5 linked regions of the Homo sapiens genome follow. The gene in region 1 interacts genetically with each later gene. Each region holds a gene or a part of one and is shown in the gene's direction. Other genes may lie near its edges.

Evidence for each region.
Region 2: changes in GEMIN5 (region 1) and RTF1 together harm fitness less than expected from each alone (positive genetic interaction), as found in Homo sapiens cells (one large-scale study listed by BioGRID).
Region 3: changes in GEMIN5 (region 1) and THOC2 together harm fitness less than expected from each alone (positive genetic interaction), as found in Homo sapiens cells (one large-scale study listed by BioGRID).
Region 4: changes in GEMIN5 (region 1) and MTA1 together harm fitness less than expected from each alone (positive genetic interaction), as found in Homo sapiens cells (one large-scale study listed by BioGRID).
Region 5: changes in GEMIN5 (region 1) and PBRM1 together harm fitness less than expected from each alone (positive genetic interaction), as found in Homo sapiens cells (one large-scale study listed by BioGRID).

Annotation. Positions count from the first base shown.
Region 1 is NC_000005.10:154,926,710-154,932,676, reverse strand, and holds part of GEMIN5 (gem-associated protein 5), read left to right. Parts: intron 1-426; coding exon 427-578; intron 579-1,099; coding exon 1,100-1,219; intron 1,220-4,017; coding exon 4,018-4,150; intron 4,151-5,126; coding exon 5,127-5,292; intron 5,293-5,967. UniProt on the Homo sapiens protein: The SMN complex catalyzes the assembly of small nuclear ribonucleoproteins (snRNPs), the building blocks of the spliceosome, and thereby plays an important role in the splicing of cellular pre-mRNAs.
Region 2 is NC_000015.10:41,468,199-41,474,165, forward strand, and holds part of RTF1 (RNA polymerase-associated protein RTF1 homolog), read left to right. Parts: intron 1-2,058; coding exon 2,059-2,194; intron 2,195-2,973; coding exon 2,974-3,151; intron 3,152-5,967. UniProt on the Homo sapiens protein: Component of the PAF1 complex (PAF1C) which has multiple functions during transcription by RNA polymerase II and is implicated in regulation of development and maintenance of embryonic stem cell pluripotency.
Region 3 is NC_000023.11:123,624,302-123,630,268, reverse strand, and holds part of THOC2 (THO complex subunit 2), read left to right. Parts: intron 1-2,300; coding exon 2,301-2,576; intron 2,577-3,606; coding exon 3,607-3,748; intron 3,749-4,199; coding exon 4,200-4,357; intron 4,358-5,599; coding exon 5,600-5,728; intron 5,729-5,967. UniProt on the Homo sapiens protein: Component of the THO subcomplex of the TREX complex which is thought to couple mRNA transcription, processing and nuclear export, and which specifically associates with spliced mRNA and not with unspliced pre-mRNA.
Region 4 is NC_000014.9:105,460,218-105,466,184, forward strand, and holds part of MTA1 (metastasis-associated protein MTA1), read left to right. Parts: intron 1-140; coding exon 141-240; intron 241-547; coding exon 548-736; intron 737-2,966; coding exon 2,967-3,041; intron 3,042-3,275; coding exon 3,276-3,334; intron 3,335-3,814; coding exon 3,815-3,930; intron 3,931-4,198; coding exon 4,199-4,350; intron 4,351-4,456; coding exon 4,457-4,646; intron 4,647-4,876; coding exon 4,877-4,966; intron 4,967-5,967. UniProt on the Homo sapiens protein: Transcriptional coregulator which can act as both a transcriptional corepressor and coactivator. Acts as a component of the histone deacetylase NuRD complex which participates in the remodeling of chromatin.
Region 5 is NC_000003.12:52,603,451-52,609,417, reverse strand, and holds part of PBRM1 (protein polybromo-1), read left to right. Parts: coding exon 1-105; intron 106-5,685; coding exon 5,686-5,897; intron 5,898-5,967. UniProt on the Homo sapiens protein: Involved in transcriptional activation and repression of select genes by chromatin remodeling (alteration of DNA-nucleosome topology). Required for the stability of the SWI/SNF chromatin remodeling complex SWI/SNF-B (PBAF).

The DNA of each region.
Region 1 (5,967 bases):
GTGGGAGGATTGCTTGAGCCTGGGAAGTCAAGGCTGCAGTAAGTGGTGATTGTGCCACTGCACTCCAGCCTGGGCAACAGAGAAGGAAAAAAGAAGAGTTGCTGCACCCTTGCAAAAACTATGAAAATTCCCTTAGAACAAAATCATGGTCCACTGTGAGTTTTGTACCAGGCAACATACATAGTATTACCTAGTGCCAAGAGTTTGATCATAGAGAGAAGGGTTTTAACAAAACCAGGAGGCATAAGGTGAGCACTTTAAAAAAAGGAAAAAGCAAAATTATTTTTTGTCCTCTTCCCTCCTCCGCCACCCCAAATGCACCTAACTTTAAGGAATGCGCCAATGGTAACTCCAAGCCAAAATGTTTACTAGAGACTCTGTTCTGTCTTCATTTTTTTAGTAATATTTCTAACTCTTGTTTTTTAGCTACAAGGATGGCATAGTGGTGATAATTGACATCAGTAAGAAAGGAGAAGTTATTCATAGGCTTCGAGGCCATGATGATGAAATCCACTCCATAGCCTGGTGTCCCCTGCCTGGTGAAGATTGTTTATCTATAAACCAAGAGGAAACTTCAGGTAGAGATGGTTTAAGGGAAAGTTAAGTCCACTTGAGACCTGAAGAACAGAACGGGTACAATTATATCATTTTTTATTTATTATTTATTTTTGGAGACGGAGTTTTGCTTTTGTTGCCTAGGCTGGAGCGTGATCTCGGCTCACCGCAACCTCCGCCTCCCGGGTTCAAGCGATTCTCCTGCCTCAGCCTCCCGAGTAGCCGGGATTACAGGCATGCGCCACCACGCCCAGCTAATTTTGTATTTTTAGTAGAGACAGGTTTCTCCATGTTGGTCAGGCTGGTCTTGAACTCCCGACCTCAGGTGATCCACCTGCCTCAGCCTCCCAAAATGCTGGGATTACAGGCGTGAGCCACTGCACCAGGCCGAATTATATCATTTTAATTATACCTAAAACTTCAAATTTTATAGTTCAGACCTATGAAAGAGATAGCTAAGTTTTGGAAACTCTTGCAAACTAATTTTTTTATATTAGTGCGTGTTTAATGTAAATTAAAAACAAAATTGCCACCTATCTCATAGAAGAAGCTGAAATTACCAACGGGAATGCTGTAGCACAAGCTCCAGTAACAAAAGGTTGCTACTTAGCCACTGGAAGCAAAGATCAAACCATTCGAATCTGGAGCTGTTCTAGAGGCCGAGGTAAGATTGATCTTTCTTTTGTGATGTAACCTATGTTGATCTGGTGGAAGTAGAGGGTTTTCTGTTCTTATTGTCCTGAGGGTGTGTCATCTATTTGAGAGCAGTTCTTCACTTTTTGGTCTAGAATTCTGCTTCCTCATTTGAGCCTGGCCTAGACTCTCTATTCTCTCAACATCTGGCCTTAGAGATTAGTATTTCCCATGCATTCCAGGAGAAGACAAGGATCTCTTGCTTTATAGAAGGGTCAGTGTTTGGCATGGAGAGCAGAATATTTGTAATAAAAACAGGAATATTAGAACATGATATGGCCTAAGCCAGGAGAATGGAAAATATCTTAAGAGTTAGAGCTTTTAATGCACAAATGCAGAATAAATTACATACACCCAGCATAGAATTATGTGTAAAAGCTCATTTTATCCAAATTATAGAGCCCCTCAATCATTTAGCTTTCCCAAATGTCTCTTTGAACAGAACTTTTATCTTTAAGTTTAAAAATTGAGAGAAACTCTAGGCATAATGAATATTTATAGTATATCATAGAATATAACCTTTATAGTAAAAATCTTGTTTTTCTCTTTCTAGCGGGCTTCTCTTCTTTCTTCATTTTATTTTATTTTTTTTGGCAGTTTTTTAAGCTGTGGTGGAAAATATAACATTTGCCATCTTTATCACTTTTAAGTGTACATTTAAGTGGTATGAAGTACACTCTAAAGTTGTGCAACTGTCACAGCCACCCATCTCCAGAATTCTACTCTCCATTTCCCCCTCCCCCAGGCCCTGGCAACCATCATTCTGCTTTCAGCTCTATGATTTTGACTACTCTGAGTATTTCCTTTGAGTGAAGTTATACATATGATATGTCTTTTTGTGATTGGCTTATTTCACTTAGCATATATCCCCGAGGTTCATTGATGTTGGTACCGTATGTCAGCATATCCTTCCTTTCTAAGGCTGAATAATATTCCATTGTGTGTATGTCCCACATTTTACTTACCCACTCATCCACTTGTTATAAATAAAATTTCGGTGTGGCAAAAGAAATAGCACTCAAATATAAAACTTTCTTTTTAATTCTCAGCAAGGCAATGTACTTCTATAGAAGGGTGCGCCCTTACAGATGGAGCAATGGTGAGCGCACACTTGGACAACGGAGGGGAGGGGTTCTTATCCCTGACGCATGTGGCCCCTGCTGCTGTGTCGTTCCCCTATCAGCTAGGGTTAGACCGCACAGGCTAAACTAATTCTGATTCGCTGATTTAAAGAGAGTGCCGGGGTAAGTGGTTTGATGGGAGAAAATGGTTATGGCAGGAAAAATGGTTATGGCAGAGCAGGAAATCAGAATGAGTCAGGGTGGAGCAGGTAATCGGAATGAGTCAGGATGGAGCAGGTAATCGAAAAAGGTTGCTTTTACGAGGAAGTTAAGTTTAAAAACAGAAGCCAAATAATTGAACATACTGACATATTGATTCTTTGAAGAGAAATTTAGAACTCATATCTCACACACTGATGGACATTTGGGTTGCTTCCATGTTTTACTATTCTAAATAATATGCTATGAGCATGGATGTACTTTCTACTTTATTTGAAACCATGATAGTTTTATCATATTTGCCCAAATGCATGTAAAGCAAGTAGCACAGCACTTGGAATGTCATCCAGGCTTCATCAGTGGTAGGTAACTAATAGTATAATTTGGGAAGACAGAACTTTTTTAAGGTTTACAGGCTACTTCTTGGCATACTGCAGCTAAAACTCCAAGTGGGAACATAAGGCTGAGGATCCCTCCAGGAGGGTAACCTCTAGACTTAGAGGTGTCTGGTAAAATGGCCTTCAATTGTGGTTGTGCAGCAGAATCAGCTGGAGAGTCTTTGGAAAAATGTAGGTTCTTGTACCCCACCTCAGATCTACTGAGTCCGAATCTCTAGGAGTTAGGCCCTGGCGTATGTATTTTTTAAAGTTCCACCTGTGGTTCCGATGCACAATACAGCTTAAAAAACGGTGATTAGAAGCATGTCGGGTGGAGGTACTCCCCACCCACAGCACGTTCACTGCCAAATTTTTCTTTGTTGGATTTCTTGCCGACTAGAAATAGTAATCCCAACCTCTGTCCTTTTCACTTTGGAGTTATGTCACTGCAATACTTTTGGGTACACAACTCAGCTGTGTTACTAGCTGGGTTCTCAGTTTTACTTGGGAACTCATTTTCCCAGACGAAAAAATACTCTTTTTCTTTTGAGGCAGAGTCTCTCTCTGTCGCCCAGGCTGGAGTGCAGTGGCACGATCTCAGCTCACTGCAAGCTCCACCTCCTGGGTTCATGCCATTCTCCTGCCTCAGCCTCCCGAGTAGCTGGGACTACAGGTGCCTGCCACCACGCCCGGCTAATTTTTTTGTATTTTTAGTAGAGACAGGGTTTCACCATGTTAGCCAGGATGGTCTCGATCTCCTGACCTCGTGATCCTCCCGCCTCGGCCTCTCAAAGTGCTGGGATTACAGGCATGAGCCACCGCGCCCGGCCAAAAAAAAAAAATACTCTTAATACGTTGAGGTTGTCAAGATAGCCTGTCGAAGCTTGTTTGACCTAAATGTAGCTAGACTAGTATTAACCAGTATTTATAGTGATTAAAATTATAACCATAATAATGGTTAAAATTGTAACCATTGGAAAATGAGATCTGAATTCTAAGTAGCCAAACTAACAAGCTTTTACAGCGCAGACTGTGTGTTATGAACCACCGGTGACTTCATGCATGTAGTTTCACTGTCTTGAGTGCCCACTGGCCTTCTTTTTAATCTGCAGGGGTGATGATTTTGAAATTGCCCTTTCTGAAGAGAAGAGGAGGGGGTATAGACCCAACTGTTAAAGAGCGCCTTTGGTTGACACTCCATTGGCCCAGCAATCAACCAACACAGCTGGTATCTAGCTGTTTTGGGTAAGTCTTTTTTGGTCATGCTTTCTCAGATATATTTTGTTTTTCTATTTGGCCTCAAGTCCTCCTAGGATGGAGAAAGTAATGGCCAAGGCTTGTATTATGATGGGCCATTTGAAATGGAAAAATTATGAGACTAATGCCTGTGCTATCTACTAACAGAGCTGTAAAAAGATCACATAAGTATAGTCCGGCAGTTAGGAATATGGACTCTGAAGTCAGAACTAAATTTCAGAATCACTTTGTCACTTACTGCCTTGTATTCCTGAGCAAGACCCTTTACTTTTCTGAGCTTCAGTCACTTCAAGTGTAGAAAGGGGAGATGGTTATAATATTTTCTCTTAGGTTGGATGGCTATGCCCATTCAGTAAACAAAGTTCATTGACTACCTACTTCTAGTGGCTGGAGATAAATCTGTTTAAAGGGTAGTCCAATATACTCACATGGTTCAAGAAGAACGAAAGTATATAATAAACTGTCTTTCTGTCTTCCCTAGCTACTTGGTTCCCCTTTCTGTGATTAAATTTTTTTTTTTTTTTGAAACAGGGTCTTGCTCTGTCACCCAGGCTGGAGTGCAGTGGTGCAAACACAGCTCACTGCAGCCTCAACCTCCTGGGCTCAAGCAATTCTCCCACCTCAGCCTCCCAAGTAACTGGGACCATAGATGTGCACCACCATGCCCAACTAATTTTTTTAATTGTTTGTAGGGACGGTCTCACTTTGTTGCCCAGGCTGGTCTTGAGATCGGGGCTTCAAGCAATCCTCCTGCCTTGGCCTCCTAGAATGCTGAGATTACAGATGTGAACTACTGCACCCAGCCTTCCCAGAGATATTTTGTGCATATTTTCAGCATATGCAATTTTTCTCTCCTTAAACGACAACAAATCATTTTGCAGCTATGAGCCCAGACTCTGTCTCAACAGTCACTTGTTTTCAGATCGTTTGTAAAAGAACTAATGCTTATGTTTTTCCTTCACAGAGGTGAACTGTTGCAATGGGATCTCACTCAATCTTGGAGACGGAAATACACCCTCTTCAGTGCCTCATCAGAAGGGCAAAATCATTCAAGAATTGTGTTTAATTTATGTCCTTTACAAACAGAGGATGACAAACAGCTATTACTTTCTACATCAATGGATAGAGATGTAAGAATGCTTATTTTCACTCAGCATTGTAGAGCAGCAGTTTACAACTTGGGTGGGATGAGAGGGCTTTTTCAAAGCACCTGTCAAGTCGTAATACTCCACCCCTGACTCCAATTTCAGAGTTACTGCTACAGATCAGCACTGAATATATCAATAGCTCACATGTAAGGAGAATGTGAAGACCCACCAAAATAGTTTTTTGTTAAAGCAGACATAATAAAGAAGGGTAGTTTTGCCCAGGGAAGGATGTATTAGGTCAAGCTTGTCCAACCCACAGCTCAGGATGGTTTTAAGTTCATCAGCTGTTGTTAGTGTTAGTGTTTTTTTTTTTTCTGAGACAGAGTCTTGCTCTGTCTCCCAGGCTGGAGTGCAGTGGTGTGATCTTGGCTCACTGCAAGCTCCACCTCCCCAGTTTTACGCCATTCTCCTGCCTCAGCCTCTCGAGTAGCTAGGACTACAGGCGTGTATCACCTACGCCCAGCTAATTTTTTGTGTGTGTTTTTAGTAGAGATGGAGTTTCACTGTGTTGGCCAGGATGGCCTCGATCTCCTGACCTCGTGATCTGCCTGCCTCAGCCTCCCAAAGTGCTGGGATTACAGGCGTGAGCCACGGCGCCTGGCCTAGTGTTAGTGTACTTTTTGTGTGGCCCAAGACAATTCTGCTTCCAGTGTGGCC
Region 2 (5,967 bases), on another chromosome or scaffold:
TGTCCTAGTAGCCACTGATGGTCATTACCTAGATAATTTAATTCATTAGGAGTTGCAAAATGGTGATATTTCGAATCTGTCATTCTTTCCTCATTCATTATCTAGCCTGCTTCTATAAAGAGAAACCTTTTTTTTTTGAGACGGAGTCTCGCTCTGTCGCCCAGGTTGGAGTGCAGTGGCGCGATCTCGGCTCACTGCAAGCTCCGCCTCCTGGGTTCACACCATTCTCCTGCCTCAGCCTCCTGAGTAGCTGGGACTACAGGCACCTGCCACCACGCCCAGCTAATTTTTTGTATTTTTAGTAGAGAAGGGGTTTCACCATGTTAGCCAGGATGGTCTTGATCTCCTGACCTTGTGATCCGCCCGCCTCGGCCTCCCAAAGTGCTGGGATTACAGGTGTGAGCCACCGCACCCGGCCTAAAGAGAAACTTCTAATCAGCTATTTAGTTACCCCCCAGGCACATTTTGAACAGGAAAGGCAAGATAAATGCTTGATTAATTTTCCTTTCGTTTACCAGTTTTTGAAAGAATGAGATAGTTCCTGGCAAGGTACAGTGGCTCACATGTGTAATTCAAGACCAGCCTGGGCAACATAGTGAGACCCTGTTTCTGCAATATTTTAAAGAGAGAGAGAGAGATAGTTTTTAGCAACTTCCAAAGATGACTGATGGGTTTTATTTATTTTGAATATCCTTGTGAACTCATCATTTTTAACGTGCTTTATGTGTTTTAATCCATTGCAGTTATTTTTCCTTCCTTCCATCCATCTTTTTCTCTCTCTCTTTTTTGAGACAGGATCTCTCTCTGTTACTCAGTCTGGAGTGCAGTGGCGCGATCTCGGCTCATTGCAACCTTCACCTCCCGGGTTCAAGCGATTCTCCCACCTCAGCCTCTTGAGTAGCTGAGACTACATGCGTGCACCACCACCTAATTTTGTTTTGTATTTTTAGTAGAGATGGGGTTTAGCCATGTTGGCCAGGGTGGTCTTGAACTCCTGACCTTAAGTGATCCGCCTTGCCTTGGCCTCCCAAAGTGCATGAGCCAACACTCCCAGCCTAAAATTTTTTTATATTATTCTTTTTTCTTTTTAAATCGTAAGTACACAGATTAACCTGCCATCTTAGATTAATGGTAGCATATTATACACAGTTTTCTCTCTCTTTTTTTTTTAGCCACCACTCCTGGTTTGTTTTTTGTATTTTTGGTAGAGATGCAGATTCACCATGTTGCCCAGGCTGGTCCCAAACCCCTGAGCTCAAGTGATCTACCCACCTCGACCTCCCAAAGTGCTGGGATTACAGGCATGAGTCACCATGCCTGGCCACGTTCCTTTTTTTTTTTTTGAGATGGAGTCTCGCTCTGTTGCCCAGGCTGGAGTGCAGTGGTATACAGTCTTGGCTCACTGCAACCTCCGCCTCCCGGGTTCAAGCGATTCTCCTGCCTCAGCCTCCCAAGTAGCTGGGATAACAGGTGCCGGCCACAATGCCTGGCTAATTTTTGTATTTTAGTAGAGACAGAGTTTCACCATGTTGACCAAGCTGGTCTCGAACTCCTGACCTCAAGTGATCCACCTGCCTCTGCCTCCCAAAGTGCTGAGATTACAGGCGTAAGCCACCGCACCCGTCCCCACGTTCCTTTTTTATAGCTGCATAGTAGTTCATTGGTAGATGTACCAGTGGTGATTTAGCCACTCTCCTATTTTAAATTTTCCTCAGAAGCTTCTGAAGTCATCATGAGTCTTTCCCCCTCTTTCCTCCCCATAGTCAAGTGTCTTGAGTGCCATAAAAGAGAACTGTCAGTAGTGTTGGTGACCCTTTCTGCCCACCTAGTATCAATCTTCCAGCCCTTTTTTCATCTGCTGGGGCCTGACATTTGGCACCTGAATAATTTTAACTCTGTGTTTTAACTCATTTCTGTATATACCCCAAGTTAGCACAATCCAGTCTAGAGAGGACGGAGCTGTGTATTTGAGTCCTCTTCCATTTCCAGTTCTTTTTCAAGGATGAATTCATTTTCTTGTTGAGAAAACCTAGGTAAACATCTCTTCTTTCTTTCTAGCTGAGCTCCTTGCCAAAAAACAGCCATTAAAAACCAGTGAGGTCTACTCTGATGATGAAGAGGAGGAAGAGGATGACAAATCCAGTGAAAAGTCAGACCGCTCATCACGAACATCATCGTCTGATGAAGAAGAGGAGTAAGCTCTTGTACATTTTGGTCTAGTAGGCAGGATAGGTGGGTTTTTGAGGAAGAGCTTGGTATCGTTTCCAAAATCTCCCTGGTTGGGCCACTAACTCTGACATGGTTACCTTTGGTTTGCTGAACTGAGTTCCCCAGCACGTCAGCCCATTCATTTGGCTGCTAGCCTGTACGCTTAGACATTTCACCTGGGCCTGGAAGGTAGGAACTGACTTCGTGTCATTCTCAGATTGGCCTGGAGCTTTCATTCATTTTCTTTTTTTTTTTTTTTTTTTTTTTTTTGAGACGGAGTCTCGCTCTGTCGCCCAGGCTGGAGTGCAGTGGCAGGATCTCGGCTCACTGCAAGCTCCGCCTCCCGGGTTCACGCCATTCTCTTGCCTCAGCCTCCCAAGTAGCTGGGACTATAGGCGCCCGCCACTACGCCCGGCTAATTTTTTGTATTTTTAATAGAGACAGGGTTTCACTGTTTTAGCCGGGATGGTCTCGATCTCCTGACCTCGTGATCCGCCCGCCTCGGCCTCCCAAAGTGCTGGGATTACAGGCTCATTCATTTTCTTACTCTGATGGGTTATCTAAGATGGCAGCCTCATTTGAAACAGCTCATACTACTGGTCAGGAACAGGATCCTATTACAAGTCTTTGCTGGTGCTTCATTTACTTCTCCTCCTAGGCCAGTCACATGTACTTTGGTTAAGTTTTGAGGAGTTGATATTATTTTTCTGTCTTGTTCTGTTTTTATGATGAACATTTTTTCCAGTGCCCCTTTGTTCCTCTTAGGAAAGAAGAGATCCCTCCCAAATCCCAACCAGTTTCCTTACCTGAAGAATTGAATCGGGTTCGATTATCACGGCATAAGCTAGAACGCTGGTGTCACATGCCCTTCTTTGCTAAAACTGTCACAGGATGTTTTGTGCGGATTGGCATCGGAAACCACAACAGCAAACCAGTTTACCGGGTTGGTATTTCTTCCCTTGGACAATTGTCCATGCTTTCAGTATAATTAGTCTCAACTGAGGGCAGGAGCTACTGAAAAAATCGATCACTCTTCTCTCAGCATTTGATGGAAAGTAGACTCCAAGTGGGATCCCCATAGAGCAGTGAGGTGCCCAGGAATCCTTCATGACTTGTTGCCAAGAGGAGGACTTGGAGCCCAAGGGCCTGGAAGATTTGGATGTAGAATAATTTTCTCTATTCTCCCTTCAGTATAAAAGGGAGAAGGGAGGCATCTATGAAGTGTTCATTGGGAGTTACATAATCTAAAAGATTTGTTCATTTGAAAAACCAATGAATGAAAAGTTTCATGTTGCATACCAAGTGACTTCTACACCAGGGAATTGTATTGAGGTTAAAAAAAACCCTCCAGACTAATACAGGTTATTATGTAGGTTCCAGCACTGCTTCTGTGGTCTAGGTGGACTGGGCACAGTGGCTTACTCCTGTAATCCCAACACTTTGGGATTTATTTATTTATTTATTTATATTTTATTTTACCATTATTATTATTTTTTTATTTTTATTTTTTGAGACGGAGTCTCATTCTGTCACCCAGGCTGGAGTGCAATGGCGTGGTCTTGGCTCACTGCAACCTCCGCCTCCCGGGTTCAAGTGATTCTCCCGCCTCAGCCTCCCAAGTAGCTGGGACTACAGGCGCATGCCACCACACCTGGCTAATTTTTGTATTTTTAGTAGAGACGGGGTTTCACCATGTTGGCGAGGCTGGTCTTGAACTCTTGACCTTGTGATCCACCTGCCTCAGCCTCCCAAAGTGCTGGCGTGAGCCACCGCACCTGGCCTATTTTTATTTTTATTTATTTGTTGTTTTTTTTTTTCAGACAGAGTTTCGCTTTTGTCGCCCAGGCTGGAGTGCAATGGCACGATCTTGGCTCACTGCAACCTCCGCCTCCTGGGTTCAAGTAATTCCCCTGCCTCAGCCTCCCGAGTAGCTAGTGTTACAGGCACCCGCCACCGTGCCTGGCTACTGTTTGTATTTTTAGTAGAGATGGGGTTTCACCATGTTGGCCAGGCTGGTCTTGAACTCCTGACCTCAGGTGATCCACCTGTCTCGGCCTCCCAAAGTGCTGGGATTATTGACATGAGCCACTGAGCCCGGCCTTATTTTTAATTTTTTGTTTTTTATTTTTGGAGACAGAGTCTTACCCCGTTGCCCAGGCTGGAGTGCAGTGGCACGCTCTTGGCTCACTGCAGCCTCTGCCTCCTGGGTTCAAGCGATTCTCATGCCTCAGCCTCCAAGTAGCTGGGACTACAGGCATGCGCCACCACGCCTGGCTGATTTTTTTTTAGACTGAGTCTCTTTTTTTTTTTTTTTAGACGGAGTCTCGCTATGTGGCCCAGGCTGGAGTTCAGTGGCACGATCTCGGCTCACTGCAAACTCTGGCTCCCAGGTTCACGCCATTCTCCTGTCTCAGCCTCCCCAGTAGCTGGGACTACAGGCGCCCGCAACCACGCCTGGTTAATTTTTTGTATTTTTAGTGGAGATGGGGTTTCACCGTGTTAGCCAGGATGGTCTTGATCTCCTAACCTCGTGATCCGCCCGCCTCGGCCTCCCAAAGTGCTGGGATTACAGGCGTGAGCCACCGCACCCGGCCTCACTTTGGGATTTAAAAAAAAATTTTTGTAGCAACAGCCTCTCTCTGTTTCTTATGCTGGTCTCAAACTCCGGGCCTCAAGTGATGTTCTGGCCTCAGCCTCCTAAAGTGCTTGGTGTTGGTTTTTTGTTTTGTTTTGTTTTGTTTTTTTGAGACGGAGTCTCGCCCTGTCATCCAGGCTGGAGTGCAGTGGCGCGATCTTGGCTTACTGCAAGCTCCCACTCCTGGGTTCACGCCATTCTCCTGCCTCAGCCTCCCGAGTAGCTGGGACTACAGGCGCCCACCACCATGCCAGCTAATTTTTTGTATTTTTAGTAGAGACGGGGTTTCACCTTGTTAGCCAGGATGGTCTCGATCTCCTGACTTCGTGATCTGCCTTCCTTGGCCTCCCAAAATGCTGGGATTACAGGTGTGAGCCACCACGCCCGGCCCAGGTGTTGGGTTTTTTTTTTTTTTTTGAGACAGTGTCTTAACCATGTTGCCCAGGCTAATCCGGAACTCCTGGACTCAAGCCATCTTCCTGCCTCGGTTTTCGAAAGTGCTAGGTTTGCAGGTATGAGACACTGTGCCCAGCCTGTTTGAGATAGGATCTCGCCCTGTTGCCCAGGCTAGCATGCAGCGGTGTGATCAGAGCTCATTGCAACCTTGAACTCCTGGACTCAAACGATCCTCCTACAACAGCCTCTTGAGTAGCTAGGACTGTAGGTGCACACCACTATGCCCAACTAATTTTTTTTTTCTTTTTTGTAGAGACTGGGTCTCGGCTGGGCGCAGTGGCTCACGCCTGTAATCCCAGTACTTTGGGAGGCAGGTGGATCACGAGGTCAGGAGATCGAGACCATCCTGGCTAACATGGTGAAACCCCTCTCTACTAAAAATACAAAAAATTAGCTTGGCGTGGTGGCATGTGCCTGTAGTCCCGGCTACTTGGGCGGCTGAGGCAGGAGAATCACTTGAACCAGGGAGGCAGAGGTTGCAGTGAGCCAAAATCATGCCATTGCACTCCAGCCTGGGCGACAGAGCAAGACTTTGTCTCAAAAACAAAAAACAAAAAAAAAGAGAGACTGGGTCTCTCTGTGTTGCTGAGGTTGGTCTCAAATTCCTGGCTTCAAGTAATCCTCCTACCTCAGCCTCCCAAAGTGCTGGAATTACAGGCCTGAACCTC
Region 3 (5,967 bases), on another chromosome or scaffold:
ATCAGTTCTATTCCATAAGTCTAGTTCCCCAGGCAATTTGAAATGTAGAACTGTTATGTCTCTTCATTTGACTGAAGGTGTGAACTTGAAGTGGGAGTTAAACTGACTTTAGACAAGGACATATTCATCTTGGGTAAATACGAAGTATAGCCTTCTTTTCTGACCAAGCCTATTTTTCTAACTAGATAGTGACTATGGGGTTCCTAGCAATAGAAATCACAGATTCAGACCCAGAGGACTGGGGAGATTGGAGCTATCATGTAACCCTCTCATACCTATAAACTAATTTTTAGTTTTAATTGTTGAGGTTGTGGTCCACCTTGAGACACAGGTCTGAAAGATAGGCTTTTAACCTAGTTCATATTCTAGATCTTGCCCAGAACAGGTAATTAGGCTGTCTTTTATGCAGATAATGTCAGCCCTATTTTATCCCGTTTTGTTAGAACCTTAGCAGAAGTCATTCTGCTCATCTAGATTCATATTAGTTACCTTCAATAAGACCTGTCCTCTAAATTAAAAAACACTCTCTGTTTTCCCAACTGCTATTCCCTCAGGTTTCTGATGCAATTGGGACTCCTTTTTCGTAACTAATGTTCTTTGTAGCTTTGTCACTTACGTGGTCTCAGTGGTTGTCAGCATGCTCTCTAAAATGGGGATAACAGAGCATAAATCTTCCCACTTCTAGAACAATTGTAAAATTCTAGAACAATTGTAAAATTGAGCACTCAGGAAGGAAGGCAGGTAACTGAGCTGTAAGGAGCTGAGACTCTTTTGCCTATCACAGTGTAGAACTGGAAGCAGAACCTTTGATCATCTCGTTTTGGGTTACGTGTTTAGCACAAATAGAATGATTTAAGTGATTTTCTAACGTAAGGAAGTAACTAGTTTTAGGACTTCCTTTAGGTTCGTATGAAGGGTGATACCTAACTTAAACAAAATTTTCTGGATGAGAGCTCTTTCATCCTAAAGAGACTGAAGGATGTGAAACAATAGCAGCAACTCTGTGTTATCTTCATATATATGTGTGTGTGTGTGTGTGTGTGTGTGTGTGTGTGTGTGTGTTCATGTATAATATATATGTTCATATATATGTTATCTTCATATATATAGAATATATAGAAAAAATATATATATTTTTGTGTGTGTATATATATGTATAATATATTTGGCATACACATCTCTGCAGCCCCTCCCATTGTACTAACAATTTTTTTTCCTCATACAATTAAGAATATGGCATTCCTCTGTTTTTTCCCCCAAATTAGGATAAACCAGTCAAACGAAAGAAGCTGCAGCATCAGTTCTCACATGCTTTAAACTTCAATATACCACAGCTTTTCACAGAAAAATTTATTTGGCTTAGCAGTAGAGTAACCAGTTGGTCCTGGTTTGCCTGGGATGTTCCCAGTTTTAGCACTGAAGTCTTAAATCCTCAGAAATCCCTGAATCCCCAGCAAACCCTGACAATTGGTCACCCTACTTAGCAGTCTTAAAACAAATTTCTCATAACTTTTCTTAGTGTTGATCCAGCTTTTTTTTTTTTTTTAATTTTTATTTTTTGAGACAGTCTCCTTCTGTCATCCAGTCTGGAGTGAAGGGGCATGATCTCAGCTCACTGCAACTTCTGCCTCTGGGGTTCAAGTGATCCTCTCACCTCAGCCTCCCAAGTAGCTGGGATTACAGGCCTGCGCCACCACGCCTGGCTAATTTTTTGTAGAGATGGGGTTTTGACATGCTGGCCAGGCTGGTCTCAAACTCCTGATCTCAAGTGATCTGCCCGCCTTGGTCTCTTGATCCAGCTTTTTAATTGACAAATTTTAACAGTTGGTAGGGTCTGCATGTAGTGATACTACATTCTGTCCTAGTTGGCTATTACTAGTTCCATTCTTCCTCTTTTCTCATGTTAAGACCTTCTATTTGTTCCCTTGAATATCTCAAAAGCAGGACTGGAAACCCTACATGTTCAATCCCTGATACAGCAGCAAGAGGGAGTAGGGTGGGGGAATGAAAGAGGAGAACATGCATATACCCTGTTCACTTTACTCAACAGGTCAGATTAGATAAGAACCCTCTGAGAATCTCCTAGTTGGCACACAGTACTAAAGACTGGAATAGCTTCCAGAGATGATTTATCTTAAAATAAACGTTGTTCATAAGAAACTAGAATTTCTACAACAGTTTTGAGATTGGTCATCTTTTGATTCTTTAGAAGGGAATATAGATTTTTATGCCATGAAAGTCAAAGCTATAAATTATGTTGTGTGTGTATGTATGTATGTATTTTTACTTTTTATCTACAGTCAAAGTATGATGAACTTAAAAAATCAGAAAAGGGAAGTAAACAGCAACATAAAGTTCATAAGTACATTACATCATGTGAGATGGTGATGGCGCCTGTCCATGAAGCAGTGGTCTCCTTACATGTTTCCAAAGTCTGGGATGACATCAGCCCTCAATTCTATGCTACATTCTGGTCATTGACAATGTATGACCTTGCAGTTCCACACACCAGCTATGAACGAGAAGTCAATAAACTTAAAGTCCAGATGAAAGCAATTGATGACAATCAGGAAATGGTAGGTTTTTGTTCTAGTAGTTCAAGTGCAATAACTTTATGGTATTCAATGTTACCTATATTTTGAAATTGTTTTAGCTCTGGTTCCTTAAAACAGTGATCTTGTTGCTATATAATATTTTCTTAAATGGGGTTTAATAGTTACTTCTGAGTGGGGGGCCAGGAGTTTGGTGACTAGGTGGAGGTTATGATTAATCAAAAATTATTTGAGTGTCCTTTTCTACTGACGACTATGCTAGTAACTTAAAGTGATTCATGTGACTCTAATAGCAAGAGCAGTAGTTCTCAAGAGGAGAGTTCTTTAGGAGAAGACTATTGAGAAGCCGAGTCTTGAAATGGACAGGCCTTGAAGGTAGATTAGGTTTGGAAATATGGAAGCAGATAGGGAGGTCACCATAGGGTTCCAGCAAAGACAGGAAGTAGATTGAGGTTTAGGGAGACCACTTTTACTGATTCACTTTCATGTAGTGAATGTACTTAGTGATTCATATGAATAGTTATGATGGGGCCAGATTATGTAGGCATTGGAAGTCAGGGAGAAAAGTAGACTTGGTAAAATTGAGAGCTATTTTAGATTCCTGAGCAGGATAGTAATGTAAAAAATGGTACTTAAAAAAGATTACTCATGACAGCAGTATGAAAGATGCTTTTTGACTAGCATTAGGCTAAAGACCAGCTAGGTGGCTTTTTGGGCAGTCTATTGTGAGAGCATAGACTGATGGAGGTAGTGGCAGTGTACAAGGCTTGTAAACCAGTCTTGATATAAAGGAGAGGGAAGAGTCAAAGATGACACCATGCCTGAGACTAATAGTGTCAGTGTTGCAAATGTAGCCTGTTCTGATGGTGTATGAAGATGCCATGACAGTGTTATGAGTGTGTTGAATGGAGATAAAAGTAGCACGTTCAAGTGGACCTATATTCATGTTAAAGTAGTTATAAACTATCAGCCTTTATCTCTTTAAACTTTTCAATTAAAAGAAGAAAGGTAATGTGCATATAGTTAGAAAAGTGTCTAATTGAATTCTTTGTAGCCCCCAAATAAAAAGAAAAAAGAGAAGGAGCGCTGTACTGCCCTTCAGGACAAGCTTCTTGAAGAAGAAAAGAAACAGATGGAACATGTACAGAGAGTTCTACAGAGATTGAAACTGGAAAAGGACAACTGGCTTTTAGCAAGTAAGTTGTTGGAATTGTTAGGTTCCTGATGCTGGTAAATTACAGAAAACAAAACATTATAACTTTAGAGGTGTTAAAGTGTATTATGTTTGTATTTCAACTCAGTGTTCCCTATCCCATTCTTTGGTTATTTGTTAATGCAGAATCAACTTCATGTTCACTGGAGGAACTGATATAGTTTGCTGGTGAAGTTAATTAACTTTTAACTACATATTGGCAGCTTGTCATTCAGCTTTTCTGTATAAAACATATTTCTGGAGAAATCATAGAAAAAAAGGTCCACATAGTAAAAATGATAATCATGACCAGGCATGACATTTGGTTACAAACTATAAATAGTTTGTGGTTTATAGTATTCTCTTCACTAAAGGTAATATGTTGTCATGTTTAGTGGCTTTGAGGCACTTGGGGAAGAAGTTTACCACTTAATATATTCTTCCTTTATTTTTAGAATCTACCAAAAATGAGACCATCACAAAATTTCTACAGCTGTGTATATTTCCTCGATGTATTTTTTCAGCAATTGATGCTGTTTACTGTGCTCGTTTTGTTGAATTGGTACATCAACAGAAAACTCCAAATTTTTCCACACTTCTTTGCTATGATCGAGTAAGTTTTTATTGCAACCTTTAAAAAGTTCTCACACAAAGATAGCTAACATTATAATTTATAGAGGTATTATTGTGTGTTTAGTTAAAAAGCATGAACTCAAGAACCAAGTGTCTGAACTTGAATCCTAGCTCTACTACTTTCTAGCTGTATGATCTTTGGCAAGTTATTTAACCTCTCTGTGCCTGTTTTCTTATCTGTAAAGCATAAGTACCTGCTTCATAAGATTGTTGTGAGGATTAAATGAATCACTACACATAAAAAGTACCTGATATGTAATAGGCACTCAAGGTTAAACTATTAACTAAGTATTTGAGTTTACGTGTTGTATCATAATAGGTAGAACTCTCTTCTCCATTCTTAACCTTCACTTCTCAAAAAAAAAAAAAAAGACAAAAAAGTTTACACCTTCACACACATATAAAAGCAGGGAAGCTTTTCAGTATGGTCATATGCACATTTTGCATTTAGCTTTTTTCTTATTACTACATTTTGTGGTTTAAAAACATAATGTGGCCGGGTGCGGTGGCTCATGCCTGTAATCCCAGTACTTCGGGAGGCCGAGGCGGGTGGATCACAAGGTCAGGAGATCGAGACCATCCTGGCTAACATGGTGAAACCCCGTCTCTACTAAAAAAAAAAATACAAAAAAATTAGCCGGGTGTGGTGGTGGGTGCCTGTAGTCCCAGCTACTCAGGAGGCTGAGGCAGGAGAATGGTGTGAACCTGAGACGCGGAGCTTGCAGTGAGCCTAGATCACACCACGGCCCTCCAGCCTGGGTGACAGAGTAAGACTCAGTCTCAAAACAAAACAAAACAAAACAAAAAACATAATGTATGTTCCAGTATGTCAGCTGCATATTTTTAATTTCTATCAGCATTTCCTCTGCTTACTCTCCCCGTAAACCCAGTAATATGTATGGCTAAGTGGTTAAGAAACTATTATGTAATAAAAAAAAAACAACTTATTATGTAATAATAATGATAAATTTTTTTTTCCTTGTCACTGTAAATCAGCTTTCTTTATAAAAGTTCTTGTTTTGGGTGGTTGTTTTATGAATGCATTATTTCCCCACAAAAGCCAAAATCTCCAAAGTTCTCTGCAGTGTCATTATATAAAGGGAATATACATTTTGACTAGGCTTACCTGTTTATTATGACTTGCTGTAAGAGAATCTTCTAATATTTTTAACTGATTTTGACCTTGATTTGTTTATATTTTTTAAACATTTTTCTCCTGTAGGTTTTCTCTGACATAATTTACACAGTTGCAAGCTGTACTGAAAATGAAGCCAGTCGATACGGAAGGTTTCTTTGCTGCATGTTAGAGACTGTGACCAGGTGGCATAGTGATAGAGCCACATATGAAAAGGTATGACTAATAAAAACCCTTATATTTTACCCATGTATATAATGACCACATCCATTAATATCTAGATAGTTGAGTTTTAAAAGAGAAGCTGAGTTTAAGATTCAGTTGTAAAACTGTGTTTATAAGCACAATTAATTTGTTATTAAAATGTGCTATGTACTTTTTTATTCTATCTCAAACTGACATTCCAAATTAGTATCTTTGTATAAGTTGAACTTTTTGTGACTACCTATCCAAAT
Region 4 (5,967 bases), on another chromosome or scaffold:
TCCCTGGCACCTGGGGAGTGGTGTGCCTTGGGGGAGTCCGTGCTGCCCGTGGCCGCTGGTCCCTGGCGCCTGGGGAGCGGTGTGCCTGTGGGGAGTCCCTGCTTGGCCGACACTGTGGTCAGCGCATCTCCTTTCCCCAGCTCTGTGGGCACCTTCGCACGGGCCCTGGACTGCAGCAGCTCCGTCCGACAGCCCAGCCTGCACATGAGCGCCGCAGCTGCCTCCCGAGACATCACCCTGGTAAGTGGGCCCAGGGCGGGACAGGTGAGACCTGGGGTGGCCCATGGCCCAGAGTGGCTGCGCCCTTCTTCCTACCAGGGCCCAGCACCTGCCCCAGGTATTCAGGACCCCTGCAGAGGTGCTGTCCCACCTGGACTGGCCTTTCCTATCCACCCCAAACTCGGCCAGACTGTGCTGAGGGTGCAGGGAGGGTTGTGCTGCTGGGCCTGCAGTAGGGGATCCTTGAGGTACTGAGGGAGGGGGTACCGTGCCACAGGTGCAGGAAAAGCCACCTTGGCCCGGGTGACCCTGCTGTCTCCTGCCGCAGTTCCACGCCATGGATACTCTCCACAAGAACATCTACGACATCTCCAAGGCCATCTCGGCGCTGGTGCCGCAGGGCGGGCCCGTGCTCTGCAGGGACGAGATGGAGGAGTGGTCTGCATCAGAGGCCAACCTTTTCGAGGAAGCCCTGGAAAAATATGGGAAGGATTTCACGGACATTCAGCAAGATTTTGTGAGTACCGTGGGTGGCGATGGGGGAGTGGCTGGCCATGCCCATCTCCAGGTAGGCTGCGGGGGTGTGGGCTCCACATCCCACTCTGCCCTGAGGGAGCCTGTCCTGCACCCTGATTCCCTGTGCGGAGCTGCATGAGTTCTGTCTCAGCTGCGCTCGGCCGCCATAGTCCTTCCTGTCACACTGGTTCAGCAGACAGGCATGGGGGCGCTGGTGGGGCCTGGGCATAGAGAGCCATGCTCCTGCCACCATTGCGTGATGAGGATAAGGGTTGGCCCAGGTGACGGAGGCCAGGGTATCCTCACGGAGACTTTCCCTTCCTTGCTGCCCCCTCCAGCCCCAGGCTTGGTTTTGCTTTGTTTTTGACTAAGCTGAACCTCTTGACTCCTCATGTCCTTGTTTTCTGTCTCACGTGAGTTTAGCCCAGCAGCAGGCCTAGAGAGTCTTCATGGCGTGGGGTCTCCCTTCCCTGTACCTCCACCTCAGGACCCCCACCCTCCAACCGTCAGCCCTCCTAAAATACTTCTAAATTAATCTGTTAGAAGAGCATCCCTATGTGGGGGTGGTGGGGCCCCCAACCATCAGCCCTGGGGAGGTGGAGACTGTGGCAGGGCAGGGAGGAGCCCCAAAGGGGCCGGGACACAGCGGGGTGGCTAGTATCTGATGAAAGCACCATCCGGGCAGCAGCGCACAGGCCAGCGCAGCAGAGGCTGGAGACGCATCTGGAATTCGGAAGAAACAAACATGGGGTTGGGTAGGGTGCCTAGACCTGAAGAGGAGGAGGGACAGCAGCCAGCTGTGAGGCTCCTGAGGACGCATCTGCTGGGGGCAGGAGTGCAGCTTTGTGTGGGGGCCTCTGGCCAAGGGGAGAGCTTGGCCGGGCGGGAGGAGTCCCTGACTGTCCCTGGGGCCAGCGGCCTCTCCAAGGCGGATACGGATCTCTCCAGGCTTAAAAACAAACCAAGATGAGCAGAACATGTTCAGACAAGAGGACGAGGGCTAGAAACAAAATTCACCAACTAGGCTCAGACCAGGGCGGAATTTGAGGGAGACCCTGCTGCACATGGTTCCAGCGGAGGAGACCCCAGTGCTGAGCCCACGTGATGCCTAGCGAGGCAGCGCTCAGGGGACTGCGGCTGCGGGGCCATGCCCAGGCACGGTCTCGGGGGGCTGCGGCTGCGGGGCCCTGTCCAGGTGCGGGGATGGGAGGCTGCAGCTTCGGGGCTGTGTCGAGGGAGCAGGCCCCGCTCTCCTTCCTGCCAGATGCAGTGGACCAGACTGAGGAACTATCTGAACCCTTATTTAATAAGACAGGTTTCTTAAATCCATGCCACAGCCCGGGCGCAGTGGCTCATGCCTGTAATCCTAGCACTTTGGGAGGCCGAGGCAGGAGGATCATGAGGTCAGGAGATCAAGACCATCCTGGCCAACATGGTGAAACGCCATGTCTACTAAAAATACAAAAATTAGTCGGGCATGGTGGCAGGCTCCTGTAGTCCCAGCTACTCGGGAGACAGAGGCAGGAGAATCACTTGAACCCCCGGGGGTGGAAGTTGCTGTGAGCCGAGATCGCACCACTGCACTCCAGCCTGGGCGACAGTGCGAGACTCTGTCTCAAAAACAAAAATGGCTGAGATGGCCGGGCATGGTGGCTTATGCCTATAATCCCATTTGGGAGGCCGAAGTGGGTGGACCACTTGAGGTCAGGAGTTCGAGACCGGCCTGGCCAACATGGTGAAACCACGTCTGTACTAAAAATACAAAAATTAGCCGGGTGTGTTGAGAGGTGCCTGTAGTCCCAGCTACTCAGGAGACAGAGGCAGGAGAATTGCTTGAACCCGGGAGGCAGAGGTTGCAGCGAGCCGAGATTGTACTACTGCACTCCAGCCTGGGTGACAGAGCGAGACTCCGTCTCAAAAACAAACAAAAAAAAGGCTGAGATGGAGGCTGGGTTGTCAGTGCCACCTCGGCAAGATCTCGACCTTGACCTTGTGCCAGCTCCTCTTCCCCTGGCGTCACTGTGTTTTGGCATCTGGCGGGGGGACCTGCTTCATCAGCTGCCCTCTGCACCTGCCTGCCAGCAGGGGCCTGGCCTCCGTGCACCAAGCACACCTCGCCCTCTGGCCTCCCGCCCCCTCTGTGGCCTTCTGGCCGCAGCCCTGCCCCTGCCTGCATGGTGTGCCTGCCTCCTGCCCCTTCCTGCTTGTGTGACACGCCTCCTCCCACCCAGCTCCCGTGGAAGTCGCTGACCAGCATCATTGAGTACTACTACATGTGGAAGACCACCGACAGATACGTGCAGCAGGTGAGCCCGCCCGCCACTCAGTGCCCGGGGTGTGCCGCCTCCCCGTCCTGCGCCCCATCCTCTCCCAGCAGGTGGGCGTGCACTGCTGCAGCAGGAGGGGAAGGAAGACTCCTGAGTCCCTGGCCCGGCTGTCCTCTCCGTGGTGCTCTCCTCTCCGTAGCCTCCAGCCTGTCTGCACTGCAGCCCCAACCTGGGCCTAGCCTGCTGACCTCTGACCTTCTCTTTTGTTTTAAGAAACGCTTGAAAGCAGCTGAAGCTGAGAGCAAGTTAAAGCAAGTTTATATTCCCAACTAGTAAGTGTGCCCTCACAGCCGTCGTCCTCGTGGCCCCGGGGGCCAGGGAGGGTGGGCACAGGGTGCTGGGGCCAGGCGGGTCCCAAGGAAACTCAAGCTCAGAGGCTGGGAAAGTTGGGGCAGCCCCCGGGAGGGCGGCCCAGGGCTGGGGGGTTCTGGCTGCAGACGCAGTGGCCATGTCTCTGTCGTCCTGGCCTCCTGGTCAGTAAGGGGGCATTGGGATTCCAGCCCACACCGCCAGGGTTCAGTCCCTGAGCTGGGCTCCATGCTAGGGGGAGCACGGGGGCCTGGAGAACGGCTCAGACCTCAGCAGTGGCTCCCAGGAACTGAAAGGGGAGAAAGGAAGATCCCTGCCGAGGCCGAGGGGTGCGAGGACGTGGTTCTGGACAAGGGGTGGTCAGCCGCGGTGCCTGCTGGGCACATGGGCCCTCGAGGTTTGTGCTCCTGCAACTCCTCTCGTCTCTCCTTTCCCTCTTTAAGTAACAAGCCAAATCCGAACCAAATCAGCGTCAACAACGTCAAGGCCGGTGTGGTGAACGGCACGGGGGCGCCGGGCCAGAGCCCTGGGGCTGGCCGGGCCTGCGAGAGCTGTTACAGTAAGTGCCCTGGATGGCCGGGGGCACACCGCACGCCCGCCTGTGGGCCGTGGTGCCTGCGTTGGCCCTGAGGGCTCCAGCATGGCCCAGCCTGCAAGGGGCCCACTGACGATGGGGGCTGCGTCCCAGGGGTGTGGTTGGGAGAGCCTCGGGGAACGTGTGGGGGTGCCTGGCGGGTGGGGGCGGCCGGCGTGGGGGTGGCGGGGAATACTCTGACATCGCTGGTTCTGCTTAAGAATCCGTCTATTTCCAACTTTGTTGTCCGTAGCCACACAGTCTTACCAGTGGTATTCTTGGGGTCCCCCTAACATGCAGTGTCGTCTCTGCGCATCTTGTTGGACATATTGGAAGAAATATGGTGGCTTGAAAATGCCAACCCGGTTAGATGGAGAGAGGCCAGGACCAAACCGCAGTAACATGGTAAGGGGGGGGACACCCGCCCTGCCTGCCATGAGCCTGTCGGCCACGCGGGTCCTCGGCCCCCGGTCATGGCGCTGTGTTGGGGCGGTTGCGCCCCCTTCCGCAGAGTCCCCACGGCCTCCCAGCCCGGAGCAGCGGGAGCCCCAAGTTTGCCATGAAGACCAGGCAGGCTTTCTATCTGCACACGACGAAGCTGACGCGGATCGCCCGGCGCCTGTGCCGTGAGATCCTGCGCCCGTGGCACGCTGCGCGGCACCCCTACCTGCCCATCAACAGCGCGGCCATCAAGGCCGAGTGTGAGTCACCCCAACGCCCCGCTTACTCTGTTCCTGCGGGTGGTGGGGAGAGAGCAGCAACCTTGGGGCCCAGCCTGTAGCCCCACTGGGAGTTCTGATCTCAGGGAGCCCCACGTCCTCCTCGGTGCTGACATGGCCGAGCCCAGTGAGGGCTCCCAGGTCAAGGCGCAGGCAGGGTCCCGTGCTCCCCTGGGGGTGCCCCACCCCTCACACCGTGTGGTACCCCGCAGGCACGGCGCGGCTGCCCGAAGCCTCCCAGAGCCCGCTGGTGCTGAAGCAGGCGGTACGCAAGCCGCTGGAAGCCGTGCTTCGGTATCTTGGTGAGCAGCCAGGCGTGCTGGGGGGCTCCCAATGCTGCCTGCAGGCAGCTTCTCACCCAAGCTCATGCACTGGTGCTCCCAGCCTTCTCTAGCTGGGAGCTCCTGGACAGCCCCCCAGGGCCTGGAACTGTCCTTTTGGGGTACTCTGCACCGTGCCAGGCTCAGGCAGACCCACTGGGACCCAGGCTGCTCCCTGCTCCTGGGGTCGTGATGGGGCCCAGTGCGGAGTAGCGGCCGCCCTGTCTTCTGCGGGGCCAGCCTCCTCAAGGCACACCCGGGGGCTTCCCTGCCAGTCTCGCTACCCTGTTCCCTGTGTTCTGATCGTCCCTGGGGCCTGAGGGTCTGGGGTTTAGGTGGTGCACACCCCTGCCTGTAATACCATTAAGGCAGCGTCGTACCTGCTGCCTGCAGGGAGTATACTTCCTGAGCCACGCCCACTCCACAGGGGCAGCACTCAGGCCTCTGCACGCCCTCGGCAGGGGGAGGAGCAGCCTCAGGCGGCAGGGGGTTCCTTTGCCTTTGAGCATCTGAGGACACCCGAGAACCTCAGCCGGCTACCCTGGCCCAGCTGGAAGCAGCTTGGTGGCTGGGCCAGACATTTGTGGTGGCGGTGGGGGGCCTCCTCCATTTGCTGGGCTCGAGTGGGCTTGTGCATCTGCCCTCCCGACACAGGGTGACTGTCCTGAGAAGGACATTCCAGAGTCATGAGCCAAGTGTGCTCTGAGATTCAAGTGGCTTTGGCATTGCTCCCTGTTTGGGGTTGTGGCCCCTGTCCTGTGGGAAGAGGTGGCTGGTGTCAGGGCTGGTCCTCAGCAGCTGTGTCCCTGGCCAGGCTGGCTGGATGGTTGGTTCGCTGTCTGACGAGCAGCCAGCCCTCCACCAGCAGCTCCGGGGGCCTGGACGTGGGGGCTGTTTAATAGGCGTGCTGTGCTCACGGGCCTGTGTATGGATCCTGTTGTCCCGGGGCTGAGGGGCCTGGCCCCCGCCAGGTGGTCTCCCTG
Region 5 (5,967 bases), on another chromosome or scaffold:
ATTTGACATAATTAGGAAGAATGTTGAAAATAATCGCTACCGTCGGCTTGATTTATTTCAAGAGCATATGTTTGAAGTATTGGAACGAGCAAGAAGGATGAATCGGTATGTTTTCAAAGCCATTTTTATTTTGAGGATATGTGCTATTTAATACAAAACAGATGAAAGAATATTGCTTTGATGTACTATTTCCACTTACATACATGATTTGTAGTTGGTAGCATGCTATTCTGAATTCTAATCAGCCAGAACTTCTTAAGAGTGAGTATATTCTGTGGGGGAGAGAAGGCACACCACTAAGTCATCTAGTTTAAGGCCAGTGAGGAGGAAGACAAAATTGAAAATCTCTTGAAAAGCATAAACTTAAAATACAGCCTTTCATAGAATGTGTTTTTTAAAAAGATAAATGTTTCTAATTGGAAATAGTAACAGCGTTTTTCTTTTAAGGTTTGGCTTCAGTGCACGAATGCTTTAAATAAAATAGCTCTAAGGTGTTGTCCTGAGGTTAGACTGATAGAAATTTGATCACCATTTTAAGTACCTCAGAGGGTTTCTTTTTTTTTTTTAATCTCAGGTTTCTCACCTTAAGAGCTTGCTGAAGACATTAAATGTTCTAAAAGAAGCAATCAAATTTAGATTTACTTTAAACTTAAATTTCCTTCTAATTTTTATCTGTGATATATCGTTGCTACATGTCAATAGCAGACTTGACTATTAAATTCAGCAATTACAGTGTATTTTATATGTGCACTTAGAGACAGTTGGAAAAATATAAAAAAAAAAAAGATACAAACCTTACCTTCCTGGAGCTTACAGCCTATCATGTTTAGAACTAGACCTTCAGGCAGTGTAATGCCAGCTGGGGAATCTATGAAATCAGAATTTGCTCTGAACCTTTAAAGAAAAGCAAGTAGTAATGTTTGCTTTCAGTGTCTTTGCAAATAAAAGAAAAAAAACATAGTAACATTTGCTGCTTGTGTTAAGCACCAGCTCTTCGTAAAGCACCATGCTAAGCACTTTATGAAGGCAATCTCTAACCCTTATGATAGCCATTCTAGATAAGTGATAATCTTTTCAGTTTGCATGTGAAAGAATTAGAGGCATAGGCAGAGAAAAGTTACCCATAGTCTTACAACTAGTAAATGATGTGACTTGTCTTGCTCTCCACTGCAGAGGGCTACTCCTGAGCCAGTTACCAGGACAAGTCATGGAGCACGGCCATAGATGATAAGCCTTGAGCTCTGTGCTCTAAAAGCTTGAAGTCTGATGGATGGGCCAGGACTTACGCTTAAGGGAAAAATAATTCCACACATGAGACAACATGCCACAACCTTATATTTAGTAAAGATGGTGATGTAAGGAACTCTGTGGGCCACAGTTCTCCTTAAAAGGCATGGGATGATAGGTAGGGTTCAAATGAATAGGCCAGAGGATATTTCAAATAAGATGAATGTTATGAGCAAAGAAATGGAGTTAGGAAATGAATATGATATGTTTAAGAGACAGGGATAGAGTTGGGGCCAGTTTGGTGAGGCCCATGTGTGACACTTTTAAGAAATGGTCCTTAATAATATGGTTCTTCAGCAATTGAGTAGAAATAAAGAGAAGGATGGAGGGACATCTTGCAGTCAAAAACTCTTGGAGTTACTCATTTATTCAACACATATTTATTGAGAGGCTACTTAATGAGCATATTCTAGATGCATGTAATACACCAGTGGGCAAAACAAACTCTGCTTTCATGTAGCTTAGACTTCTTTCTGTTCTTGTTCTTGGCTTAAGTAGTCCTTAAGTCTAATACCCCTCCCTTCCTCTCCTCCCTGCTTAGCCCCATTACATCTTGGTGTTAGTTCTGTGAGTCTTTCAATGAGTATTTGTCTTCTAGATTATTAGGAACTTCGTTTATGTCTTATAGATGAAATGTTTATTTTAAGAATTAAGATTTGTATCTCTAGGAAATTAGCTCTTTTCATTCTCCCATTGTTGACATGGTTGTTTTTTGCTTTTGAGGCCTGGAAGATAGAGTCCAAGGTGTATTTTTATGAGATAGTGATGCACACAGTTTTACCCTCATGCCCAGAGCTTTGTTGAAAAACAAAAGGGATCCCTGGTAATTTAGTAGTTAGGAAAAATTTTTTAAAGAAAAACATACGGGGAGCCATTCTTAACTTTGTGAACAAAGATAGTATTGTGATTGCTTATAGTACTTATTAAGAATAAGTACTTAATAAGAATTGATGGAGATGCATCAATTTAGTGAATGATAAACTATGCCTTTATCTACTATATTATCAGTAACAAAGCTAGGCATCCCAGAAATATTAGTTCATAAATTCAATGAAGTCTACATACCGTAGATTTCCATGTTGATCTCTAAGAGTCTTCATGCTTCATCACCATTTACCCCTACCCCTACCCACCACTGCTACCCAACATCACCTAGGACTTCACAGGCTAAAATAGAAGGAATCTGAACAGTGAGACGTAACAAGAGAAAAATTCACTCAGGTGACAATAGTTTGTCCATCAACAGTATTTAGTAACAGCACAGTGCTGACTCATGCCAGTTGGCTGCTGGCTTTCCTAAACTGCTGGCAGTATTCCCAGACTAAACACTCTGATCCCCTTGCAGGTAAAAGAGACCTGTGGGAAGATGAACAAGGGAAGCATTAAGAGCCTCCTGTATTCTTAATTATTTCCTTTTGCTGAATGTCTGCCTTATATAAAAAGATTACCAATTGAGGGGAATTTAGAGTTCTTTTTCCAGCTTGCGTTTATGTTCCTGCACATTCAATGAATACCTGACCTCGTAGACTAATAAATTCTTTATAATGCTTTGAATAAACAAAAGCATATACTAGGTGTTTAGTGACTCTTGTACAGAATGTTCATTTCTAAACCATGCGATATGATGGAATTATGATCTGCCCTTTTAGTATACCATGAAAGGTATTTACAAAAATTTTACAAAAATTTTTTACTTTTAATTTACAGAAATTTTCACTTTTTATACTTAAAATTGTACACTATTATAAAATGAACTTTAATTTCAAGTGAACAGAATTCAAATATCTTCATTCAGAAAACAAACATAAAATTATGTTTTAGGGGCCAGGTACAGTGGCTCACACCTGTAATCCCAGCACTTTTGGAGCCCAAGGTGGGAGGATGGCTTGCACTCAGGAGCTTGAGACCAGTCTGGACAATATAGCAAGACCTTCCTTAGCTCTACTTAAAATAAAATTTAAAAAATCAGCCAAGCTTGGTGACATATGCCTATAGTCCCAGCTACTCGAGAGGTTGAGGTGGGAGGATTGCTTGAGCCAGGAGATTGAGACTGTAGTGAGCCATGATCGTGCCACTGTACTCCAGCCTGGGCAGCAGAGTGAGACTGTGTCTCAAGAAGAAAAAAAAAGTGTTTCAGGGGTGTCTTCCCTTGGTAAGTTTTATTTTTATTGCTTTCCTACAAGTATTAGCATTTCTATGACCCCAAAAGATATTTAAAACCTTTCCAAGGCCGGACACAGTGGCTCACACCTGTAATCCCAGCACTTTGGGAGGCCACGGCGGGCGGATCACCTGAGGTCAGGAGTTCGAGACCAGCCTGGCCAACATGGTGAAGCCTCGTTTCTACTAAAAGTACAAAAATTAGCCAGGCATGGTGGTAGGTGCCTATAATCCCAGCTACTTGAGAGGCTGAGGCAGGAGAATCGCTTGAACCTGGGAGGCAGAGGTTGCAATGAGCTGAGACCGCACCACTGTACTCCAGCCTGGGCAACAAGAACGAAACTCCATCTCAAAAAAAAAAAAAAAAGAGACTTTCCGGAAACACCCATTTAGATTATTGATCGTGTCTTTTAATTGTTTGTCAGTTCACCTTTGCTGATGGGAGCAGCATTCTGGGGACCTCTCTGAAGTTTGATGCTCTAGTGGCATGTATCAGTAGGTGGCCTACTTGGCCACACTCCTCTGACCAGAATGTCTCTGTAACTGCTAAGACCTTTGTGGTTAGTTTTGTGAATAAGTTTTTAGACTCTGGTATTCTTAGTTAATAGAATTTGATTTATGCCAGCCAGGTGTGGTGGCTCACATCTGTAATTTAAGCACTTTGGAAGGCTGAAGAGGGAGGATCACTCGAGGCCAGGAGTTCGAGACCAGCCTGGGCAACACAGGGAGCACCCTGTTGCTACAAAAAATTTTAAAATTAGCCAGCCTGAGCCCAAGAAGTTGAGGCTATGGTGAGCTGTGATCACGCCACTGCACTCCAGTCTGGGTGACAGGGCAAGACCCAGCCTCAAAATAAAATGAAATAAAAACAATTGTATGTAAACCTTCCTCAGACCACAGTGGTACTAGAAACAGTAATAAAATTTCCTCCAGTCAAAATTCTAAAGTCTGAAGTTTATTTTGCCCACTCCCCACATTTTATTTATTTATTTATTTATTTATTTATTTATTTTGGGACAGAGTCTCACTCACTCTGTTGCCCAGACTAGAGTGCAGCGGCGCGATCTTGGCTCACTGCAACCTCCACCTCCCGGGTTCAAGTGATTGTCCTGCCTCAGCCTCCTGAGTAGCTGAGATTACATGTGTGCACCATCAGTTTTTGTATTTTCAGCAGAGACTGGGTTTCACCATTTTGGCCCACCTTGGCCTCCCAAAGTGCTGGGATTGTAGGTGTGAGCCACCACAACTGGCCTGTTTATTGATTTTTTTTTTTTTAACAGACAGGGTCTTGCTCTGTTGCCCAGAGTGGGAATGCAGCGGTGCCATCATAACTTACTGCACCCTTGAACTCCTGGGCTCAAGTGACCCTCCCGCCTCAGCTTCCCGGATAGCTAGGACTGCAAGTGTGTACCCCAATGCCAGGCTACTTTTTTGTTGAGACAGCGTCTTGCTGTGTTGCTTAGGCTGGTCTCAAACTCCTGGCCTTAAGCAGTCCTCCCGCCTCGGCCTCCCAAAGCATTGGGATTATAGGCATGAGCCACCATGCCTGGCCGCTTTATTTCATAAATGAGGAAGGAGACTCAGAAAAGTTCTGGGTATGACATACATAATCTTTTTTCCATCTTTCACTATGTTGCCTTTGCTGGTTCCCCAGAATTACACAGTTATTTCTGGGAAACTAAAATGAACATTAACTCTGAGGCCTGTAACCATTATAGAATACTTTCATGGCTTTGCTTTAGGTTCCGATATTCACAGGGTCTCACTAGCCTAGGCAACCATGATGTAGGACCAAAAGGAAGAAAATAGAGCCTATTATGTAACACATCGGTCTGCTATTAAGAGAAAGTAAAAATTCAAAGAATAGATACGAGTAAGTGTTGAACATATTGTGGAGCCTTGGTACAATTCTTGGTTCTGGCAGCCACCTTCCCCTGCCAGAATCGATTGATGCGTGTGCCATATATCTCCAAGAGAAAATACATGAGGCCTTTCGTTTTTCATGAGCTGTACAAGAAGTGAGCCTTGAAGTAAAGGAAAATGGTGGGCATGGGGCTTACCATGGTAAAATGACACTTTGGATTTTGTTCTAACAAACTTCGGAAAGATACTCTTCATAGACCTGTACAGAAATACCACTATATCAATTAAAGAAGCATTTAATAGAATTTAACATATAATTGAGGTGTTTAAAAGAAACAGCTTGTATGTCAATGGATACTCTTGATGCTGTTATAGGACAGATTCAGAAATATATGAAGATGCAGTAGAACTTCAGCAGTTTTTTATTAAAATTCGTGATGAACTCTGCAAAAATGGAGAGATTCTTCTTTCACCGGCACTCAGCTATACCACAAAACATTTGCATAATGATGTGGAGAAAGAGAGAAAGGAAAAATTGCCAAAAGAAATAGAGGAAGATAAACTAAAACGAGAAGAAGAAAAAAGAGGTTGGTTTCTTTTCATTTTATTGAATATGAAAAAATGCACTGTCTTCTAGGTGTTCTCATAATTAGCTGT